Homo sapiens: one gene and its partners. The protein of the gene in region 1 interacts with the protein of each later gene in a pairwise test. Each region holds a gene or a part of one and is shown in the gene's direction. Other genes may lie near its edges.

The links.
Region 2: the proteins of RETREG1 (region 1) and DDAH1 interact in a two-hybrid assay, tested with the Homo sapiens proteins (one study listed by IntAct).
Region 3: the proteins of RETREG1 (region 1) and TIGD1 interact in a two-hybrid assay, tested with the Homo sapiens proteins (one study listed by IntAct).
Region 4: the proteins of RETREG1 (region 1) and HK1 interact in a two-hybrid assay, tested with the Homo sapiens proteins (one study listed by IntAct).

What each region holds. Positions count from the first base shown.
Region 1 is NC_000005.10:16,571,974-16,579,024, reverse strand, and holds part of RETREG1 (reticulophagy regulator 1), read left to right. Parts: intron 1-6,922; coding exon 6,923-7,029; intron 7,030-7,051. UniProt on the Homo sapiens protein: Endoplasmic reticulum (ER)-anchored autophagy regulator which mediates ER delivery into lysosomes through sequestration into autophagosomes.
Region 2 is NC_000001.11:85,455,142-85,462,192, reverse strand, and holds part of DDAH1 (N(G),N(G)-dimethylarginine dimethylaminohydrolase 1), read left to right. Parts: intron 1-7,051. UniProt on the Homo sapiens protein: Hydrolyzes N(G),N(G)-dimethyl-L-arginine (ADMA) and N(G)-monomethyl-L-arginine (MMA) which act as inhibitors of NOS. Has therefore a role in the regulation of nitric oxide generation.
Region 3 is NC_000002.12:232,543,383-232,546,157, reverse strand, and holds the end of TIGD1 (tigger transposable element-derived protein 1), read left to right. Parts: 3' UTR 1-441; coding exon of another isoform or gene 442-615; 3' UTR 616-1,255; coding exon of another isoform or gene 1,256-1,386; 3' UTR 1,387-1,577; coding exon of another isoform or gene 1,578-1,791; 3' UTR 1,792-2,275; downstream 2,276-2,775. Other genes in the region: CHRNG (acetylcholine receptor subunit gamma precursor), read right to left, coding at 442-615, 1,256-1,386, 1,578-1,791, 2,459-2,573, 2,769-2,775.
Region 4 is NC_000010.11:69,314,689-69,321,846, forward strand, and holds the start of HK1 (hexokinase-1), read left to right. Parts: upstream 1-4,158; 5' UTR 4,159-4,259; coding exon 4,260-4,322; intron 4,323-4,375; exon of another isoform or gene 4,376-4,489; intron 4,490-7,158. UniProt on the Homo sapiens protein: Catalyzes the phosphorylation of various hexoses, such as D-glucose, D-glucosamine, D-fructose, D-mannose and 2-deoxy-D-glucose, to hexose 6-phosphate (D-glucose 6-phosphate, D-glucosamine 6-phosphate, D-fructose 6-phosphate, D-mannose 6-phosphate and 2-deoxy-D-glucose 6-phosphate, respectively).

The sequences.
Region 1 (7,051 bases):
GGAATGCATTGGTCTCTTTTCTACCTGGCCAAATCAGATGTCTTTCGAAGTCAAAGTTTAGATGCCACCTTCTCTAGAGCTTTCTCTGGCTGCTTTATGTAGTTACTGGCTCTGTTTTCTGCCCCCACAGCATCCTGAATAGCACTTTGGTTAAACACAGTTGTTTACCTGTCTGCTTTCCTGGCTTTGCAGGGGGAAGGCTGGGATTTAGTCACCAGTGTTTTCCCAGCAGCTAGCCCAGTGTGTGACAGATGCTGTGAATGGAATGAAAACAGAATTCCCTGCCTCCCCCAGTAATAATAGGATGCTGCCGGAAATTGAATGCTGCAAGAAATGTTGAGCTTCCTGGCATGAGATCTATTTAAGTAGAGGTGGTTGATTGCAGCTGAGGGGATTTGTGGATCAGATGAAAGTAAATCAGATGACCTCTGAGCTCCTTCCAGCTCTGTGATTCTGTGACAGTCCTTCTCTGAGTGATGCCACAGCGTGCCAGTGTCAGGATCGCCCACGCCCAGCAGATGGGGATTGTTTTTTGATGTCCTTACAGGCCAGTTTCCATGTAAAGATCGGTTAGAAACAATTTTGTTCAATTACTTTTTAAAGAAAAATTTTGATTTTATAAAATTACAAACTTAAAACTCATTTTTCTTTGAGCTTTCCATTTTAGCTAACAAAACATTATTTTGTTTATAAATCTAGCAAATTGTAACCGTGTTCAAGAGAGTCTGACTGTTTCATTAAATAATAAATGATTGCTTTATTAAGTGATTAGTTTTGTTAGAAAGTTGAGTTATATTCCTTTGAACATTTTAAACTGCATTTGTAAATGTTATATTTTCTATATCCCTTTGAAGTACTTTATTATCAGAATAACTAAGGTTGTGCCAAAGACCTGAGAGGCGACCTGAATAAGACGGGGTAGCTGGAGCATCAGTAAGGATAACTCTGCAGTGACTGAAACACGTCAAATATGTTCAAACTCTTGAGTTCATAATAACAGGAAAAAAAGGAATAAGAAAACGTATGAGTCTGTTTTCACGCTGCTGATAAAGACATACTCGACACTCGGTAATTTATAAAGAAAAAGAGGCTTCATGGACTCACAGTTCCACGTGGCTGAGGAGGCCTCACAATCATGGTGGAAGGTGAAAGACACGTCTTACATCGTGGCAGGCAAGAGAGAATGAGAGCTAAGCAAAAGGGGTTTCCCCTGACAAAACCATCAGATCTCGTGAGACTTACTCACTCCCACGAGAACAGTATGGGAGAAACCGCCCCTGTGATTCAATTGTCTCCCATTGGGTCCCTCCCACAACACATGAGAATTAGGAGAGCTACAATTCAAGATGAGATCTGGGTGGGGACACAGCCAAACCATATCAGTTACCTTTAGAGGACACTAGGGAACTGCTTCACTATCTTGAAAAAACCGGTAAAATAAAGGGAAGAACTCAAGAACTGATGCTGCCTTTCCGACGAGCTCCACCTCTCAGTGTAATTGGACATTGATGAGGGGAAGTTTCTCGTTATAACTGTGATCCAGCTATTACTCGAAGCAGGAGTGAAGGGCCGTCACCCCTTGTAGCCTCTGAGGAATCAGCCACTAGACAGGGATTGTCTGTGGCTGCCAATAGTGCAAGTGTAGCCACCAAGACATCCAGACAGTCTGCGTGTCTCTTGATGGAAACAGGCACTACCACCTATCTTTGGGTTTTAGAGGGAAAAAAAAAAAAAACAAACCTAAGTCTTATCAAGCCTCTAGATCCACGTGCCAACTTATAGGCTACACAAAAGATCAAGGAAAATGTTAAACCAAATCACAAGGATACAACAAACGATTCCCAGAAGCTGGAAAACTTTATTGGAGAAATGAACCTGACAGCAAGGGACCTATAAGGGTCCAGGACACTTAAAATCCACATCTGCCAATTTCAGCAGATGACTTTCTCAGATCCTGTTTCAGTCTGTGTGTGTGTGTGTGTGTGTGCGTGCACACAAAAATGAGTGGGGAAATATGAACCTTGATGGGATATTCGATGACATTAAGAATTAAAGTAATTTTTTAGATGTGATGGTGGTATTGTTATTTGGTTAAAAATATCTTGTTTTTGGCCAGGCGCGGTGGCTCCTGCCTATAATCCCAGGACTTTGGGAGGTGGAGGCGGGGGGATCACAAGGTTAAGAGATCGAGACCATCCTGGCCAACATGGTGAAACCCCATCTCTACTAAAGATACAAACATTGGCCGGGCGCGGTGGCTCGTGCCTGTAATCCTAGCACTTCGGGAGGCCGAGGCAGGTGGATCACCTGAGGTCAGGAGTTCGAGACCAGCCTCAACATGGAGAGACCCCGTCTCTACTAAAAATACAAAATTAGCCGGGCGTGTTGGTACATGCCTGTAATCCCAGCTACTCGGGAGGCTGAGGCAGGGGAATTGCTTGAACCTGGGAGGCGGAGGTTGCGGTGAGCCGAGATCGTGCCATTGCACTCCAGCCTGGGCAACAAGAGCGAAACTCCGTCTCAAAAAATAAAAAAATAAATAAATAAAAAATAAAGATACAAAAACTAGCTGGGCATGGTGGCGTGCACCTGTAGTCTCAGCTACTCAGGAGGCTGAGGCAGGAGAATTGCTTGAACCCAGGAGGTGGAGGTTGCACTGAGCCAAGATTGCGCCACTGCCCTCCAGCCTGGCGACAGAGCAAGACTCCATCTCAAAAAAAAAAAAAAAAAGAAAAAGAAAAAATCTTGTTTTTGAAGATAAATGGCAGTATTTGCAGATTAAATTACATGATGTTTGGGATTTGCTTCAAATAATTTCGGGGGAAGGATGAGCTTAGTGGGTGGGAATATGGAAGAAACAAGATTACCCATGAATGGAGAATTGTTGAAACCGGGTTTATTACACTCTGGCCTCTCTTTTTGTGTACGTTTGAAGTTTACCAAAACAAAAACTTTTTAAAAATTCCTTCATCTAATAACACAAACCCTCCCAAATATTAGGTACTACTTGAAAAATGAATAAACTAAAGAATAAACTCATGTTTGTAAGATTTTAAATTTCCAATCACAAGTCTAAATTACTCAGCTACATATTTTGAAGTGGAGCCCTGAGACAAATCATCTTAAACATTATAAATAATTAAAGTACCAAAAGTGCTCAGATTTTTCTAAATACAGATTATTCTCTTAGGGTTTCGTTTCTCAAACATGTTTATATGACACTAACCCACCAAAGAATCAAATATGTAGTCCCATACAGTTTGGCATTACCTTGCTAAGCAATTGCTGGGCTTGTCTTCTCAGTGGACCGAGGATTCTCGATGACCAACAAGACCTTGGCCAATATGCCAACTGGGCCCTTGCCCAGGACAGAATAGACAGACATCCCGAGTGCTCTTTGGAGTTGCTGTGGCAATGCCTTCCAAATGAAGTCTGGCAGCCAGGCCTGTGGGTTGCAGTCCTGGCATTACCTAATTTTCTTTTTTATTATTCTTGGAAGTTTGTAACTTCCACTAAGAGAATAACTAATGGCCTTTGTGCTTTGGTTGGTTTTGCATTTCATTGGTTTTGAAAAGATGCTTAAATGGCTTCCTGGCCAGCTCCAAAGACTTTTAAACTTGAGGGAGCTTTCTGTCTGTGCTAGGGCTTTGCCTGACCCTGCAAAGAAAGCCATTCTAAGGAAGCATGCTGTTCGAACATTTGCAGGTTCTGTCTCATGCCATGTGAGCCGAGCTGCGCATTACAGCTCATTAGTGGGCCCTGAGTCAGGCGAGTGATTCACAGTCAGCATTTAAACGCGTAATAGAATTGAATGGAAAAAGTTGAACTGCATTATGAATTGTAAGGAAAATATTTTTCAAAACTTGTTTTTCATTTATATGTATGTAAATATAAATGAGTTTCTTATTGTGGGTCACTATGAAATCTGCCACTTCAACGTGAGGTCGGGAAAACTGGGAGCACCCAGCACATGAACAAGAGCAAGAATGAATCCTGAATTGAGAGTGAGGAGGCTGGCCCCAAACCAAGCAAACACCAGAATGCAACCTTGCTTAAAACAAACAAGAGCTACAAAAATAGAGCAAGTGGTGGCTCCTTAGGGGAGGGACAAATTTAGTGGAGGAACAAATGATTGTTGCTAAAGACATGGACTGCGGCATTTTATTCTGTAACTTGTGTCTTTTATGTCTGTTCCATCTTTCTATGCTCCTAATTCACCACTCCCTTTTGGTAGCACAGTGCTTGGTGCAATTAGGCAATCAATAAATATTTATTAGATGCAAATACTAGTAATCAAACCACCTGTTTCAGGGGGCCTGGGAGGAGGAGCCTGGGGCCTGGGAATCTACATTTTAACAAGTTTTCCAGGCAGCCAACCTGGCAGCAGTTGCAGACTGTTATTTAAGAAACACTGACCTAGTCCACCTGCTCATTTTGCTGGCCCAGGCCATACAAACAGCATTTGAACCAGTGAGAGCTTGGGTTGGCCACCTTCTGGTGGAGGGCTCTACCCACCACGTCACCCAGCATCTCATGTTGATCTGCTTTTCACCAAACATACTGCATGACCTTCTAGTAGGTGGTCTGGACTCCATGCTTCCTCCCTACCCCGTCACATCCTTCCTGTTGCCCTCAGACATTTCCCTAAATCACCCATCATTTCACTTCCCTGCTCTATACCTTTGACTTTCTCTCTATTGTTTGTAGCATAAGACTTACTGCGCATTCTGCTTGACACAGTCTTCCCTGATCCTATCTCCCCAATCTTGTCTCTCTGCCAGTCTCTGAACCCTCTTCTTTTGCTTTCTCTTCCTGCTGAGGCACCCCAGATTACTTGATGTGCCACAGGTACCTCACCCTTTCCTGAGTCTGATCTTTGGTTCATGTTGTATTCTCTAATTGGAGGAGCCTCTATTTTCATCTGAGTTGCATCCACCTCCCCAGACCCAGTTAAGTGCCGCTTCTATAAAAACTTCCCAGCCGGGCGTTGTGGCTTGTGCCTGTAATCCCAGCACTTTGGGAGGCCAAGGCCGGCGGATCACCTGAAGTCAGGAGTTTGAGACCAGCCTGGCCAACACGGTGAAACCCTGTCTGTACTAAAAATACAAATAAATTAGCTGGGCGTGGTGGCAGACACCTATATTTCCAGCTACTTGGGCGGCTGAGGCAGGAGAATTGCTTGAACCTGAGAGGAGAAGGTTGCAGTGAGCCAAGATCGTGCCACTGCACTCCAGCCTGGGTGGCAAGAGTGAAACTCCATCTCAAAAAAAAAAAAAAAAAAACAAAAAACAAACAAACCCAAAAAACCAATTAAAAAAAAAAAACCATTCCCTGCTTTGGAGCGAATCCATCCTCCCTCTCCCTGTGCCTCTCCTTGTTCTCTGCACATTTCTGTGACAACACCTAAGCCTTGCCTGCCTTGGACTTTGTGAGCTTGGCCTGTGTTTGTCTGATGAGAAAGCAAGTTTGCAGAAGGCAGTATTCGTGTGTTCTTTACTTCTCTTTATAGCCTTGCAAACAGTCTTAAACATTTATTAAATTAATTTTTCTATGAGTTCTGATTCTATCAAAGTTAATATTCATTGGCAGCTTGGCCAATTAACTTGTGTAAACAGACCTCTAATCTCATGTGAAGGCTCAACGCTCTTTGTGATTTCTTTACAAACACACCCAAAAAAAGCACTGCAGGGTTTGTGTGCTGCTCACGGTCAATAATTTTTAGTTTGTTTCCCTGCAGAGAGGAGGTAGACAGGTAGCAAAAGGGGAGCATGATCTTAAAGCGAAAGAGTTAGCAAAGTGGATCTTCAATAACTGCTTTTTTTTTTTTTTTTTTTTTTTTTTTTTGAGACAGAATCTCACTCTCTCACCAGGCTGGAGTGCAGTGGTGCGATCTTGGCTCACTGCAACCTCCGCCTCCCAGGTTCAAGTGATTCTCCTGCTTCAGACTCGGAGTAGCTGGGACTGCAGGCGCACGCCACCATGCCTGGCTAACTTTTGTATTTTTAGTAGAGACGGGGTTTCACCATGTTGGCCAGGATGGTCTCAATCTCTTGACCTTGTGATCCGCCTGCCTCGGCCTCCCAAAATGCTGGGATTACAGGTGTGAGCCACCACGCCCGGCCAATAACTGCTGTTTTTAAGAGACGAGGGTGGGAGTAGTTAGAGAAGTGAATAGGGCGTAAATGAAAACACAAGACAGGGTGGTGACTAAAGGGCCTCTGTAGTGCAGCCCATCCGTGTCTGTTAGAGAGCCCTGCAGCTTGGCTCTGCAGCCCATCCTAACTCTGTTTCAGGTCACTTCCATTCTCCATCGGCTATTGGAGAAGCCCAGCACTAGGAGCAATATTTTGGTCTATGCCTGAGATAGCAAATCCTCTGCCCGAAATTGGAGGGTAGAGCAGAAAGCTTAGCACAAAAGCGCGCAGGCTCAGACACTTTCATTTTGCTGACTTTGATGCCTATTAAATAACTTTCATGCAGTCACACTGGGGTGATTTTGGAAAGTGAAATCATGCCAGGCACAGTGGCTCACGCCTGTAATCCTAGCACTTTGGGAGGCCGAGGTGGGTGGATCGCTTGAGGACAGGAGTTCGTGATGAGCCTGGCCAACATGGCGAAACCCTGTCTCTACTAAAAATACAAAAATGAGCTTGGCGTGGTGGCTCATGCCTATAATCCCAGCTACTTGCGAAGCTGAGGCAGGAGAATCACTTGAACCAGGGAGGCAGAGGTTGCAGTGAGCCGAGGTAGTGCCACTGCACTCCAGCCTGGGCAACAGAGCGAGACTCTGTCTCAAAAAAAAAAAAAAAAAGTGAAATCATTATTGAATACCTTTTTTGTTTCTGTGGCAGGAAGTAAACCCAATTTTGAAAAGGTTAAAAATCCTCAAATTGAAATACTGATTTGTGTTTCGCTGTTGCAGGTTCCTTGCATTGACTCCATGGAGAGTATATCACCTGATTTCCGTCATGATACTTGGGCGTGTTATTATGCAAATAATAAAGGATATGGTTTTGTCTAGAACAAGAGGTAAGAATACTCAGATTTTATT
Region 2 (7,051 bases), on another chromosome or scaffold:
GGTACTCTTCCTCTTTCCTCTCTTCCCTTTTATCTGTCTTAAGTTCTCAGCTTACTGTTATCACTATTATTAGCTAATATTTATTGGGTACTTGCCACTTGCCATACACCATACCAGATTTATGATGTGCATTTCATTAATACTCACATCAACTCTTTGAACTCAATACTATCATAATTCCTATTTTAAAGTTGGTGAAACTGAGGCCTGGAGAGATTAAATAAATTGGCCAGGGTTATAGAGTGTAACCTGTAAAACCAGGATTTGAACTCGGGTTTAGAGAACTCCAAAGCTCTAGTCCCACTTAGACATCACTTTTCCAAGCATGGAATTGGTTCTCCTTTTATGAGCTCCTAAAACGCTATAAACTTCCTTTTATATATATCATACCACGTGATAATTGCCTGTTTACCGTTCTGTATCTCCCACTATTATGTAACCTGTCAGGGCTAGGATCATGTCTGTATTGGTCAACATTTTGTCACCAAGGCCTTGTATACAATAGGCATGTAGCAAATATTTTGTTGAACAAGTGTTCTCATTATTTTAGATTAACCTTAATTCTCCCTCCTTATGACATATTTGGTGTTTCACAAGCATTCCCAATCAGTAAGGTCCCAAAAGTTCTATTATGAACGTAGGTGGTTTATAGCTGTTTCTTCTTCTCCCTTTCCCTGTCCCTGCCTCTTTCTATTGTTATTGTTGTTTTGTTTGTTTTTATAAAAATCTTGAGAAATTCCTTCTTAATCAAAACATCGTGTTTCATTTAATGACTTTTCTTCCTTGGAATTCAAGAAAGTATTCCTGTGAAAGCCCAGTGTTTGCCTGAATGGGGCCTCAAAGATTAATAAAACACAGGCCCTGTGTGCAGGAAGCCTAAGTTTTAGTGAAGGAAACTGTATTTACAGAAAGTCAGTAAATAATGTTAATTGTCTAATAATGTTGTATCTTTAGATTTTGAGTATTTTTTATGTTTAATACTTTAAAGAAAAATAAGCCGTTAGAGGCCTATCAAATTTTACATGACTCCAACTTACTTTTTAGGGAAAAAATGCAACTTCTCTGTTTGTTTGTTTTTAGAGACAGGGTCTCACTCTGTCACCTAGGCTGAAGTGCAGTGGCATGATCATAGCTCACTGCAGCCTTGAACTTCTGGGCTCAACAATCCTCCTGCTTCAGCCTCCCAAAGGGCTGGGATTACAGGCACGAGCCACTGTGCCTGGCCAAAAGTCAATGTTTAAATGTCAAATAATGTAAACAAATAATCTAAAAGATGATGTAGGAGAAATAACAGGGTGTGAGGATTGAATTTTTTAAATTAAAACTTTTGTGTAGATAATTAATGCCTACAGTGCCAAAATCAAAAGGTACAAAAGGATATGCAGTGAAAGTGGGTGTTGCCCTTCTACGCCCACTCTTGCACCTGCCTAACCAGTTCTCCTCCTTAGAGGCAACTACTAATGCCAATTTCTTGAGTTTCTGTCCAAAGGTTCTTAGTACCTAATGAATGATTAACTGACAAAACTTAACTTAAGCAAAATTGCAAAATATATCCTGTTTTGCAAAAGGCCCTTTTGCCCCTTTACTTTTTTTTTAAATTTATTTGTCATGTACCCTGTTGACTAGGATTGCTCCTTTTTAACAGCTATTTTATCCTTTCCCAGGTACCAAGTGTTAGTATGTGGGGTAATTTTGTCTTGGAGAAAACCACACAAATGCATTCTTACAAAGTGATAATAGCTTTAATTATTGTTTCCTTGAGCTTTTGCATTTGTAGGGGCCTCTTCAGGAAGAAGTCAATGCTTAGCACCAGGTAATAAATCCCAAAAGTGGAATTAGGCATCAAATGGGGGAATGGGGACATAAATGGAAGGGATGGGGAATATAATTTGGATAGATGTTCCCCTTTTATTAGGGTACTTAGTAGGACCTATATATTTTGGTTCTGGGTTTATTCTCTGGTTAGGAAAAAGCCTAAATATGTTCATCCTGGAGGCAAGTGAACATCAAGATAATGTCTAATAGCTATAGCTAACAAATGCCAAGTTTTTGAATGTGTGTGAATCCTAAAAGGTGGTATTATTAACCCTATTCAAAAGATAAGGAAACTGAGGCTCAGGTAACTGAGGTTAAGTGACTTGTCCAAAGTCATACACAGTAATAAGTTGCAGAAATGAGGTTTTTATGAAAATCTGAAGGTCATTTTTTGCATGAAGTGCTTGTTGCCAGTTGCGGTTAATCCTAACATAACATTAAATCTATGTAGAATAACTACTTAAATCCCATTTTACACATTAGTGATATGCAATCTAACTCGAACACTAAGTGAATTATTTTACTTCCCTTCTCTCGTAAATGAGAATATGTTGTTTTCACTTTAGTTTAAAAATAACAATTCAGTCATTTATATAACCCCCTAAATGGCCTAGGCACAGTTTGTGCGTAATTGTATCTTATTTACCAGCATAGTGGATGATTGCATTTTTAAATGCATAAATTTCCTCAAACTTCTGTTTAGTTTCAAGTGAGAAAGCTGCCCCAAACCATAATTAGAAATTATTCTGACACCAAGATGGAAAGTGAATGTGCTGGAGGCTCTTCACATGGCAGCAGATTAACAGTTCTTGATAAATCATCACCGCCAACTAGTTAGAACAACTGCTCCTTTTCAGGATTTTTTTTTTATTGTTTTGACTCTTCTACATGGCCTTGGCAGTAACGTTTGGAAATTGATGTGTCCCAGAGACTGGGATGCATCCAATAATGTAGTCTCTTCCTGTGCAGCTGATCTTGAAAGCCTTGAAAATAAGGAACAAAATGACTAGGGAGTGACTTCTATTAGATACTATTAGCTGAAAATGAGCTTTCTGCAGAGATTCTTAGACTCATTAGAGAACCATTATAAGACTAAGAAGGCAGGGCTAGATCCCTTGTAATTCAGATATGCTGGAAAATTGCCTTTGCATGTATTTGAATTCTTATTAAGCTCAGATTTCTTCAAAATTAGTTTTTATTATAATAATGGTAGGTATCCATCCATTAATATAAACCACAAAAACAGAAAAATCTACTTACAACTTTTCAACAAACAGATTTACCTTCCACTGCCTTTGTGTCATAAGTAAATTGTTTGTGGCATCTTATGATTCTCAATATAAATTTGGAGGTGCATGTTTTAAAAATGAGTGCTAGTTATTAATTTTATGGGCTTTTGCTACTAAAATCTGTAACCATTTCAGAAAGCCTCATTTTTTGACTGGAGATCTGGATATGTGTAGTGTTCCTTCCTGCTTATCAAGGGAGTACCATAATTAAAGAGAAAATGACTAAAACCTTAATAAGAGAGAAAAAAGTTTCATTTATATCTTATACAGAACATAGTGCAGTATTTATTTCAGGTTGTCCATAAATATTTACTTACATAACTGAATCCTCTGAACTTCCATCAAAATATTCCCCTGACCTTTGAAGTTAGCTTCCATCACTTCCCCTAAACTGATATTAGATATTAAATCTGTCAGACATCTCAGGCTCATTTCATAAGCAGGGGCTTTTCATCTGAATGGACAAGCAGGCATAATCTCAAGCAACAAATCCCATTTTAAAATGTGTGTGTGGTGTCTGTAGTCCCAGCTACTCAGGAGGCTGAGGCAGGAGAATCACTTGAACCCAGGAGGTGGAGGTTGCAGTGAGATGAGATAGCACCACTGCACTCCAGCCTAGCAACAGAGCAAGACTCTGTCTAAAAAAAAAAAAAAAAAAAAAAAAGTGTGTGTGTAATGTCATCCTAGTTCACTTTGTCATTATCAAGTAATTTAATAATGTACATCATTTTCCTGAAGCTGATGCTGCTGAAGGAGCAGTAGCATCACATAGAAAGGAATAAATCACCAGACTTTAGACTTTTGTTGCTAAATGTTTAGATTATCCAAGCAACTATGACAAGAGGAATCAGCATGAAAAAGTACAAAGAAAAGTACAAACTAATACAGGGTTGGTTTAATTTTGTCCAACAAATCAGTGTGGACAAGAACCCGACTTAGTTTAGGTTAGCAAATTAAAAGGACTATATCATTTAAGCTGCTTTTGCAGCTGGATGGGCTTATAGGGGTAAGTTATCATTCCAGTGAAGATACATACATCAGCATTTTCCTCTGTTTGAATATGTGTAAGTAAACCTTTGCCTTTATTAAAAGACGTTTTGGGCTGGGTGTGGTGGCTCACGCCTGTAATCCCAGCACTTTGGGAGGCCAAGGTGGGCGGATCATGAGGTCAGGAGTTCAAAACCAGCCTGGCCAACATGGTGAAACCCCCATCTCTACTAAAAATACAAAAATTAGCTGGGCGTGCTGGCAGGCGCCTGTAGTCCCAGCTACTCGGGAGGCTGAGGCAGGACACTCACTCGAAACGAGAAGGCAGAGGTTGCAGTGAGCCAAGATCACGCCACAGCACTCCGGCCTGGGCAACAAGAGCGAAACTCCGTCTTCATCCTTTTGCCTTGATTCTGTCGTCATTATTTTGCTTAAGAAATATTAAAGTTTTCCAGTTTTTGTGTGGCATTAATTATGAGTGCCATGATTGCGTGAAAAATGACTGCTTTTGATAGTAAAGGGATAATAGTTGTGTTACTCATATCTGTTAGTACATTCAATAACTGTCTATTATGTCCAGGCTGAATGTTTGGTGCTGGGGAGATACAGATGAATTAGACACTTCCACTGCCCCTGAGGATGTCACAGTCCAGAGAGGGAGGCAGATCAGTGACAGACACTTGCAGAACACGGGGGCAGATTTTATGACAGACCTCAGCCCAGTGCCATGGAAGCTCAAGAAGATGTGTCTCACCCACACCAAGGCTTCCCAGAAGGAGCGATTATTGAGTGAGAATTAACCAGGGGAAGGCAGAGAAGAGCAACCTTCCAGATACAGAGAACAGGATGAGATAAGATGGGGGTAATAGTCCAGTGAAGATTAATTTTATTAATGTTGAGAAGATGTAGAATTGAGAAAAACTCACCCGTGCCCTCTCAGATCTTTTGAAATTTCAGATCCAATTCCAAGTTCACCAAAAGAAACAGGTACAGAACTGTATTACTTTGTTTTGGGTCTAGAGGGATTTGGCCACTTTGCACACTTCATTTCTAAGTGTACTTCCCTCTTACTCTTATCCACATGCTCCATAATGGTCTGGAACCCCTTCTAGGATTCCTGACTGGCACAGTTTGGGAACAATGTAGCCCACTCTGGAGTTGACTAAAGTCTACTTTAAGTCTGAAACTTAAACATTTCCTGAGTTTGCCATTTAGATTCTGGTAAGGCACTTTTTTGGTGGTGGAGGGTGGGGGGGTCCTGTAAGTTATCAGTATATTCTTTGCTGGGGGTTTTCCCCCTTGACCCATAATTTGTTACATGAGGGTGTATCAGGAAAACCTGTCATCTTGTAGTATGTAGTTATATACAGATGCTCCTCAACTTATAATGGAATTACATCCGGATAAACGTATCTTAAGTTGGCAATATCATAAATTGAAAATACACTTAATACTTGTAACCTACCGCACGTTGTAGCTCACGCTACACTACCTTAAACATGCTCAGAACATTTACATTAGCCTATAGTTAGACAAAATCATCTAACACAAAGCCTACTTTAAAATAAAGTATTGAATATCTCATGTAATTTATTGAATACTGTACTGAAAGTGAAAAACAGAATGGTTGTATGAGTACTCAAAGTATGGTTTCTACTGAATTCATATCACTTTTGCACCATTGTAAAGTCAAAAAATTGAAAGTTGAACCATCATAAATTAGGGACCATCTGTACATTACCCATGTCAATGACAAATAAGACAAAACTAATTTCTATTTGCTGTTGAAATTATTTTTATTCACAAATCTCTCCATCTTGACATTAGTCACCATTGAATCTCAAGTGCAGCGTAAACTGAGAATGCATCTATAATTATGGGTTGAATTTTGCATGAGCTACAGGAGGCAGCCAGGTGGGGATACCCACTGTCCTGGGGGCAGGAGACACTGGTTTTGATTTTTGCAGTGATATTAAGATCAAATAGCTGAGGGATTTTTTTTTTTTCTTTTTGGAACCCGGGTTGTAGGGGAGAGAAAGTGTAGGGTGGGAAAGAGATAAGAAGATGGGAGAAAGTGGATGGGGAGCTGATGATAACTTACATTTGTGAAATGGAATTGGAGTTTGATAAATAAAAAATACTGATTTTATTCAACCAAAGACATTATACTTTTTCTGCTTAATTAACTAATCATATGAACTCATGCCTTGTTAATGATAATCCATTATGAGATGCAGTTGAATTTGCTAAATCTATTTCAAAAGCTCTGCTTACTCAACCATTTATAGCACATTTGACAAGTAATTTTTTCTATAGAAGACTTTAAATAAAAACCATTGAAATAGTGTAAGATCCTAGACCCACATACTGTCTGCCATCACACATCACTTTCCTCAGTGTCTGTCAGTTGATGTTTTTGTGTGGTGAATGTGAACCAGTGGCCTGAAGAAATGGAGAGTAAATGGTGATGAGGTATTGCTGTAAGTTGTGTTTTCTGTTATAACTAAGTCTTGACTTACCCATGGTAATTCTTTCTTACAAACCTTCCATATATGTGTGCTGGTTTCTATTCCTGATGCTGAACTGTTAGTTTTCTAATATTTAACTTTTGGCTTCCAAAACTACATGAAGTTATTTTTCTAAAGAAAGACAAAAAAAAAGAAAAAGATACCTACTTAAAAGTAGCCTTCCTATAATTAGCTGTGTACACATGTTAGCCAAATAAGGTATAGATGTAGTCATTTTTAGCCTGAAATGATTGAAAAAGGTGAAATTAATGAATTAATCTTGGTGCAGTTTCAAAATAGTAATGGAAGAAAAACATAGCCATTTTATTCTTTTAATTATTTTTTTCAGTCATAAGGGAACCATCATTTCAGGAAGAAAGATTATTATTACTACAGTTTGGCTTTAGGTCATATTTTAGGCCATTTATGATGTAATCATATTTTCCAGCTCAA
Region 3 (2,775 bases), on another chromosome or scaffold:
TTTGGAGAGAGCATCGGCTGCTACTCTTCACACCTCTTGTGACTGCCCTCTTTCAGGGAGAACTTGTAAAAGGGGAGCCAGTCCCAAGTCCGAAGGTATTATACAAAACAGTCCTTCGGGCTTCAGACTGATGGGAATGAATAATGCTTTGCCTAAGTGAGGGGAGTGCACTGAGTGGAGGGGTGGCTGGTGCCAGGATGAGCTAGCCAATCCCACGTGTGTGCTGACTGCAGCAGGACACTAGCCACGGCCCACCCCCAACCACTCTCGGACTCCAGCTCAGACTGTTTCCCCAGCTTTTCTCAGGGCTGTTTGGCTCACACAGTCCTGAAGGGCACTTCCCAAAGAGCACACTTAGGACCTCAGTAGGAGAACGTGGCTGATAAGACTCAGTGTGACCCACGTGTGTGACTCCCACATGCCCCACAGTGGTTGGTTGGCTCAGTCTGGTGAGGGCAGGTAGGGGCGTGGATCTCCAGGGAATGGCAGGGCCGGCACCCGGTTGTAGTGGGCCATGAGGAAGATGCCAGCTGTGCCACAGATGAAGAGCGAGAGCATGGCCAGGAAGCAGACGCGGTCCAGCACTCGGCCCACCAGGAACCACTCCTCATTCCCCTGAGGGTGGGAGGCAGGTGTGGGATAACCAGCGGCGGCACCAGGTCTTCCCTGGGTCCTGTTCTCATCCTTGGGCTTCCAGCAGGCCCATGTCTCCATTTCCTGGGGCCCTTCTTACCTATGTCCGGGTCCCAACTGGTGGCTAATTCCATGGCCCCCTGGCCCTGAGGTGCCCCCCCTGCCCCTGTTCCTTTTTCTTTCTTTCTTTCCTTTTTTTTTTTTTTGAGACGGAGTCTCACGTCTCACTCTTTCACCCAGGCCAGAGTGCAGTGGTGCGATCTTGGCTTGGCTCACTGCAACCTCCGCCTCCCAGGTTCAAGCAATTCTCCTGCCTCAGCCTCCTGAGTAGCTGGGAATACAGGTGCCCGCCACCACACCCAGCTAATTTTTGGTATTTTTGGTATTTTTGGTAGAGATAGGGTTTTGCCATGTTGGCCAGGCTGGTCTCAAACTCCTGACCTCAGGTGATCCACTCGCCTCGGCCTCCCAAAGTACTGGGATTACAGGTGTGACCCACTGCACCCGGCCTCATGTTTTTCCATCCCACTGCCCTATCTTGGCAACCCCACTCATCCTGTCTCTATCACGGTTCCAAGCCCAGGTACTCACTCCACCTCCACCCCACCCTGACTCAGCTTACATTGTCAAAGTGACTCTGCTGGTGCCGGGCACAGGCAATGAGGTTGCAGGCTTCCACACAGGCCTGGATGGCTGGGGCAGCCTGCTTCAGGCTGCCACAGAACTGGCTCAGCCCTAACTCCGGGCCTTTCTCTGATAAAGAGAAAGGGTAAGGTTTGGGAGTAGAATGGAGGAGAAACAGGCAGAGAAGATGGCCTCTCCTTAGGGACCCCAGCTCCTCTCTCCCTGACCTGGGCACTTCTCCAGCACTCATCTGCTGTGCCTGGCTCCCCAGCTGGGGTCCCAGGGGAGGACTGTCCCCAGGCACACCTGGTGTGTCTCACCTAGCTTCTCCAGCGCTGCCGCCACCAGCCCTTGCCGCTGCCACTGCTGGAAGAGGAGTTCACTGCGAGGCAGGCAGAGGGCCACCTCCTCCCCAGTTGTGATCGACCATCCCGAGGAGCCATTCTGTAGCCGGGACTGGGTGTCCTGCACAGCTGCCGGGGCCAGCGGGCGAACGTGCATCCTCAGCAGCTGGGGCAAGAGCCTCAGGAACACCTAGAGAGGGGGTGGCTTCACTAGGGCAGCAGGCCGAGCTTCAGAGCAGAAGCCAGAGGTTGGCGTGAAGGGCTTGTGCTGCTAGGGACCATGGAGGCAGCATACCGGGGCAGTGACGTGGCCTTGGTAAAGCTTTCTATACTGGACACGAGCCTGGGTCCCCAAACTTCAGTGCACATCAGAATCACCAGGGCACTTGTTATAAACACAGATTCCTGCCCCCAGCCCTCATGCTATTCTGGCCTAGAATGCCTGGGACAGGCCTGGGAATCTGCATGTGCAACAAGGGCCCAAGCTGAAGGCTGCAGGTGGGCTACAGATCACACAGACTGGAATCAGACTGCCCTGGCAGACTCCTGCTTTTTCGACTTTGTAGTGCACTTCCTTGGGCAGGTTACTTAACCTCTCTGCGCCTCAACGTCCTCATCTGTAATTGGAGGTGATATGGGTTTTATGAAGATGAAATACATTAACATTTGTAATATCCCGGGCACCTAGGAAGCAATTTCATTCCTGTATTACTGTAATCGATTTTGGTCCATGCGTCCAGATACGCCCAGGATGGGTGTGCTGTGGAATGCCACAGGTGAGTACTGCCGGGGCGTGCGAGAGGGAGGCGTAGGGGAGTGGGCAGCGGGATGTTGAAGTGGGCAGGGAGGGTCCTTGCCTTGCGGACCCCTCGGGCCATGGAGTGTGTGTGTGGAGACCGCAAGGAGACATTGAGCACAACCACAGCATTCACGACAATGAGGATGGTCACCACCAGGAGGAAGGTCAGGTACCTGTCAGGGTGGGGTGGGCAGGAGCTGGCAGCCCATACCATGATGCCACCCCCACGCTTAGTGGCTGCCCCCCCTCAGGCCTCCTGAATTGAGGATGGGGGGGGTGGATGGAGGGCAAGAGGGCAATGCAGGAGGCCATCATGCTCCCAAGAAGGGAGAGTGGCATAGGCGGGTGGACATGAAGACCAGCCTTACTTGCTGA
Region 4 (7,158 bases), on another chromosome or scaffold:
AGACTGTCTCACTCTGTCGCCCAGGCTGGAGTGCAGTGGCACAATCTTGGCTCACCACAACCTCCACCTCCCAGGTTCAAGCGATTCTCTTGCCTAAGCCTCCCAAGTAGCTGGGACTACAGGCTCTTGCCACTATGCCCAGCTAATTTTTGTATTTTTAGTAGAGACAGGGTTTCACTATGTTGGCCAGGCTGGTCTCGAACTCCTGACCACGTGATCCTCCCACCTCAGCCTCCCAAAGTGCTGGGATTACAGGCGTGAGCCACTGCGCCTGGCCAATTCCAGCAGTTTTAGAGGTCAAGGCAAGAGGATCCCTTGAGTCCAGGAGTTCGAGACCAGCCTGGGCAACATGGCAAGACCTCATTTCAATTTAAGAAAAAAACCAAAACACCCAAGCTCTATAACCTTCACATCCTCATTGACTGATTAAGTGCAGATAATGATATTTGCCCTTCTAACCTCACCAGGCTGTTATCAGGAGAAATGAAGCAATAAATGAGAAATTGCTCTGCAAACTGTCAACGTTATGTAAACATTGCTATTCAGAGTGTGCTCCCAGGTGCGGGAGGTACAGCTGTTATCTGTTGGAGATCACTCCTGAAGTAACATTCCTAGTGCCATGGGTCAGATGGGAATTGGTACAGACATTCCAACTTAGAAGGCAGCCTTTATTGTCTTATAAGCAGGTGCGTTTCCTGGGGTGGCAGCCTGGCACTGGTCACTCCAACCCCAACTTGTGTAGGAGGTACCACAGTAAATGAGTAGAGAGAGTTCAGGGGACTTGAAGGGAAGTGGAGGGCCATCTGGAGAGGGAGGGAACTAAGGACTCCCTGTGGGTTGGGGTCTTCCTGAGGATCCAGGGAGTAACTGTCAAGGAGCCTTAGCAGGGATCTAAGAGCTATGCAAGAGCAAAAAGAGGCAAATTATTAAGGAAATTAGTGAAGTCAGCACTGGAACAACAGAGAGGGGACACAGCAGTGCAGCATGGGCCCTGGCCTCAGGAAGCTGTCTGATTGGGGCAGATAGGACCAGCCCCCTAGAAGACAGTCACCCATATCAGTTAGGCAGTCATGACTCAGTGTTACTTATCTGAGGCCCAGGTTGCATGAGGGGTTGGGGGTGGGATGGACAGAGCACTGGCTGGGCATCAGGACTAGGCTGGAGTCCTGGCTCAAAACTCTACCACAACCTGACACTGGGCAAGATGGCCCACCTGTGGCATCCCAGGTTCCTGCCCTGTAAAGAGGAGTCTGGGTGTATATCCAGATGGACTGTGAGCACAGCCTGAGTTTGCCCTGTCGAGGTGCTGAGGCCTGGGAGATTGGGGTGAGTAGCTGTGGTCCAGGGAAGGTTGGCAAGCTGGGCCTTAGATGAGAGGGGATGCTTGGTCAGGCAGAGGTGAGTGGAGAAGGCAGGGCAAGGAAGGGAATATGAGCGGCGAACAAATGGAGTGGACATGGTGGGGGCAGAGGATGGTGGGAAGTGGCCTTGTTGCGGCCAGAGTGGAGGAAGAGATAAGTGGGAAAGAGTGGAGTCGATTACAGAAGGCCTCGGAAACCAGGCAGAGATGTTTAAATTGGCTCTCTCAGGAAGGAGAGGGCCATGAAGGGATTTAGGGAAGGGTCATGACATGATTATGCTGCATTTTAGCAGGATTAATGTGACCTGGTGCTCAGAATGACTTGGATGGCATGAGGCCAGGAGCCGAGGAGGACAGTTAGAAGACTCTTGTAATATTTCTGGCACAGGGAGATGGACTGGGAGTTGGGAGGTGGCAATAGGTCAGGCCTAGAGACATTTCTCAGGAAATATTGACAGGCCTTGGGGCCTGGTTGCATTCATGGAGTGGGGAGGAATGAGTCACCTTGAGAAGCAGTTTCCCTCTCAAAGGCCAGGGAAGACAAAGCAGAGGCAGCTTTCCTGCCTGCAAACAGGACATTTCAGGGTAACCTGGCTCTTCCAAGCGTCAGCTTCTCCCTGGCTCCAGCTCAGATAGGAGTTGTAACAACGGGTTGGGCATGGGTGATGGCACCGGCTGGTGGCTGGGTTAAGGGCCATGTTTTTGATTATGCATTAGGCTTATTCAGCCTGCCAAGTGCCAGGCCCTGCGCTTGTGTAGGAGACAGAGCAATTAGCAAAACATAGTCCTCCATCCTCAAGGAGTTTCCAGCCCTGTGAGCTTGGCAGATCTGCAGAACTCAAATGAAATGGCAGTTGAGAACAACCATCTTGTTCTCATTCACTCCATTTTGCTTAACGGCCATGTAGGTAGTTCCAAATGTTTGATGTGTACCAGAAAATCTCTCTCTTCCTGGTTTATAATTATGATCCAGGGCAAATCCAGGTTTTGTTGGGCTTGAAAATTAAATAAATTGGCACTCTCTATGGAAAATAATTCAAATATAAATATACAAATATCACACTGCTAGGCCCTCCCAGGGCCTAGAAGGGTAGGAATGAAAGTGAGAGTCCCTGAAGCTTTAACCGCATTAACTTTTCAGTCAGTTCTATGATACCTGCCATTCCTTAAGTGTGTATTATGTGCACGTATTTTGCGTACAGTATTACACAACAATCAAGGGGAGGTGAGGTGGGCATTAGTGTCTTCATCTTATGGATGAAGACACAGTCTCAGAGGTGATTCAAGATGCCCCTCTGCATAGGCCCTAAGGCAGGGGGTGGGGACTGTGACCTGGACAGGAAGCTGGGGCCTCAGGACTGCATCTAAGCTCCTCCTTTTCTGTGGGTGATGGTGGCTGTCAGGCCCCTGAACCTACGTCATCCCTCCCTCTGATTTGACTGTACCTTTGCTAGGCCTGGTCAAGGGCTAGGGACTCCTAAAGTCAAGAGCTAGGGTAGAGGTTGGGGGTTGGATCTCAGGGCACCATATGGTGCAGACTTGGTTGCAGGAAAGTGACCTATTTAGGCAGAGGGGCTCTATACAACTGGGACCACAGCAAACCCTAGAGGTGAGCACCTGCTTCAAAGACTCACAGATCCAAGCTGTGATCCTAGATCTACAACTTCCTGGCTGTATAAAGTCCAGCAAGACTGAGGCCTCACTGAGCTTCAATTTCCTTACCTGTCTAACCAGAATAGCAACAACTTGTTTGTATATTTGAGCTCATTACATGTCATTTTGTAAGGCACTAAAGCTCCTGGAGGCTTCCGGAACACAGAAATAATTAATCTAAGAATCCTAAAGTGGCTGTCCTGGTAGCACCTCTAGGGAGTCCTCCCATCCTACGTAACTTCCTCTGGGAAAGTAGAAAACACGGCACCTGGGAAGGGGCGCTGAACCGTGCCCCAAGTCCCAGTGGGCCTGGATGCCCAAGAGCAAGAGGAGGCCCAGAGGATGGGGACAGGCCACGACCTGTGGCCCAAGTCCCGCCCAGAGGGAGTGCGCCCTGAGGGAGAGCCACCGGAGCTGGTGACTCGGGGGCGGGTGCTCTGGGGTGTCGCTTTGGGTTCAGCAATACAAATCTGCCAGCTGGAGATTAGGCGGGGCACGCCGGGGAGAGGTGATGCACTGCCGCTGAAGACCCAGGTAGGCCGGTGCGTTCGGCCTGGGTGAGGAAGGCGCGGGACCCGGGTGCGAGGACTGCGTAGCGTCCCCGGCTCCCGCTTCCGCCCGCTTTCCACGCCCACTTCTGCAAGTCCCCTCCGGCACCTCGGCGTCCACCGGACTCCTAGGGGCGAGCCCTCATTTCCGAGGAATGGGACCGCCTTCGTGCCCCCGGGGCTGCCAGTCCCTAGACTAGCCCTAGGGGCTTCTCGTCCCGGCGGAGCCGGGCGGTGCCTCCTGCCTGCGCCTCGCACCTCCCCGCCTGGCACGGCCCACCCGGGCACGGCGCCGCCACGCGTGAAGGCCCGCATCGGCTCCCTACGTGGGGGACGTGCAGGATGATGCGGGGTCGGGGGGGATTTCGCTGCGTCGCCCGCCCCCTTTCCGGCGCAGGAGGGAGCGGCCGCCGCGTCCCCGCTCCCCGGCCGGGACGCCACCGCCGGGCGTTGCAGAGGCGCGCCGCAACCAATGGGCGTGGAGGAGGTGGGTCGGCTGGCGGCTGTCACCCTCCAGGGGACGGGAGCGCGGAGACCGGGAGCGCGCGAGCTGTCGCCGCGCCCCGGGCCGAGGGGGAGGAGCCGGGGGAGGAGGAGGAGGAGGAGCCGCCGAGCAGCCGCCGGAGGACCACGGCTCGCCAGGGCTGCGGAGGACCGACCGTCCCCACGCCTGCCGCCCCGCGACCCCGACCGCCAGCATGATCGCCGCGCAGCTCCTGGCCTATTACTTCACGGAGCTGAAGGATGACCAGGTCAAAAAGGTGAGCCCCCGCCCGCGCCGCCGCTGGTCCTGGCCGCAGCCTTGCGTTCCGGCATCCGCTCGCCGCCTCCGCTGCCTCCATCCTCCGGCGCCCGGCCTTCTCCGGGCCAGCATCGAGTTGGACTGCAGGGCGCAAGGAAAGCCTTCGCCTTCGATTCTACCGGCATTGTCAGTGTCTCTGTGTGTGTGCGTTTTTGGGAGGGGGGCAATCGGGCGGAAGACCCCCGAGACCGGGCTGCCTGCTGCAGTGTCCTTGAAACGGGCCCTGGATGTCAGATAGGCCCCCGGGCTGTGCGGGGAGGTGGCCGGTGGGCCCTTCCGCAGGGCCTGTTCGGGAGGGTCCGAGCGCCGTGGGAGGAGGTGTGATCATGGAGATGCTGGGGAGGTGATCGAGCAGCAGGCGGGGGTGCTGGCTGGAGGCCAGGCCTCCCATATTTGGGGTTCCTGGCGGAGGGTGTCGGGTGCCCCGGAGAAGCTGTCGCCGGGCTCTCCCAGTTGTTTGAGCTGCTCGTTAATCTGAGGACGAGGTGACCCGCCCGGCTTCCCGGAACGGGGAGGGGCGGCGAGGCCACCGGAAACTTTGCTCATAGGCCTCGTGTCTGGAGCGGCACGTCTGAATGGAATTTTTTATTCCTCTTAAGCTGTAATTTCTAGCCAGCACAGGAGCTCAAATAAGCGACTGGTCATTTGAGTTGGGTGGACGCCTGTGGCATGCTTGTTCTAGCACTTGGACGCATGCATCCTCCTGTCCTGAGGTGTTGTTGCCTTTGACATCTTAGTGTAAAATACTGTCCGCTGGCAGGTCTTAAAGGTGTATTTGTCTCTTCTGCCAGCTGTGCTACCATATTTTAAAGAAACAGCCTAAGCTGTAGGGAAAGACGCCCGTTTTATCAGTGCCAGGTCTGGTACAGGCTCCAGGCCCACCCACCCTGAACGTGGTGACGTTATTGCTGGGGTTAGCTGGGATGGACTGGCAAAGTCATCTTGACTTTGGCGTTCAGACAGGTGGAGTTCTACAGGTGAAAGGCAGGAGTGACAGGCCTTGATTTTCTGCCCGGCAAGCCATAGGGTGTTCCATCCTCTTCCTGTGCATCTAAGATGACTCCCTCATCTGGCACCATAGGAAACAGGCCTACTGAGGGCAGCGACCTTATCAAGGTCACCCAGTGAGTTAGAGGCAGAGCCAGTCAGGGGGATCCAGGTCTCCCAGTGCCTCCACCCAGGAACTTCACCAGGGTCCTCCTGGAGGTCAGCTTCCAGGAGGGAGTGGGTACTGAGAGACAAAGCCGCTGGGGACCCTGCCGTGATCTTGGATCCCATGGTGGGTGGGGACCGGGAGTGAGGTAGGTAGGAGATAGGCTTGGGAATGCCATCTGCCATTGCTCTTTATGGCTTTAAGCACTCTGGGGTTGTCAAACCGTGGCACTCGAAACACTTGCTCCTATGGAGCACCCTGGAGCTTCCCTCTGGCCACTGACCTGGGAGCTGTGCGTGCGGGTGTGTGCATTTCATGAGTTTTCTCTAGTGGTGTTGTGCATCACTGATGTTCTTCCCATTGGACCAGGGAGACAGTTCTCCCGGCATGGCAAGAAGTGCCCAGAACAGGCCTCCTGAAGCCAAGAGTTCACTGTCCTCCTGCACGTGGTGTCCTTTATAGCTCAAGACAGTGGGCTGCTGGGCTGGGGGGTGCCTGGGTGACCTTGTAAACCTCCAGTGTCCACACCCACCACCACCCACAACAGACTGCTGGCTGTTGGCTGCCGGTGGCCTCCAGCAGCTGAGCTGGGCTGAGGTTTGGACTCCATTCAGTGGGACATGTTTTCTCAGACATACAGTGTCTAGGGTGGGCCCAGAGCTCTCCACTCCTGTGGGTGGCTCAATTCACATCTATGGATGCACAGTCTATCTCCTAGGCCCCCGTAGGTACCTGAGTGTGTGATTCAGTTGACCCTTCCATCCCTCCTCACTCCGAGTTTGGGATTCTGATGTTCTTCCCTTCTCTTCCCCGAGAACCTTGCTGGAGGAAGGTCTTAAGGCCAAGGTTTCCACCAGATATTATTTGTCAAGGAGATTCTTAAAAACAAGATGTTTGCTTGCATTTCACCACGGACTTCCTATGCTGCTTTCTATAGGGGAGTACGTGGATTCCTGCCAGGGGGTCCACTCATTTTGCATAGTGGACTGTGTGGCACAGCCATCTGTGGGTGTGGTCCTGGCTATGATTGCGCCACCGCACTCCAGCCTGGGCCTTCTAAGGACAGTGACATAGTGGGTACTTGCTCCAGTGACCTACTCAGTTTTGCCCAAGTGTGCAGATGCTGGGGACCACATCTGCTCTTCTGGGGCCCAGGATTTCTTAGAGACCAGCTCTTTCCACGTACCACTCACCATAGGAAAGGCTAGGTGAAGGTGCGGGACCCCCTGTTCTTCCTGTGGGGCTGGACTCTGCCTGCCTCCCAGCAGGGACCTGCTGAGGATGGTTCCCCCCCAGCGTGGGCAGCCATGATGATTCAGCCCTCCAGCTGTAGGCAGCCTCCGGGGCTCTGGAGACAGACCTGGCATCCCTCAGTAACTCTCATCTATCTTCTTGCCCTCAGAGCCAGAGGTAGGAGAAGGGAAGCTGGGGACCATGCCGGGGAAGTTTTTGGGATTGCTTAGAATCCAAACGTGATCATGAAAATGGTGTCATTTCTTTCTTCATTGCCTATGAGGCACATCAATAATTCAACTCCATAAAAATATATCCTGGGTTGAAACAGTTCAGGTGTCTGACTTCCCAGCTTGGAACCCCATTATCCAGACGGCATCTGCATAAATTGGTTAATGGGTGCTGTTGA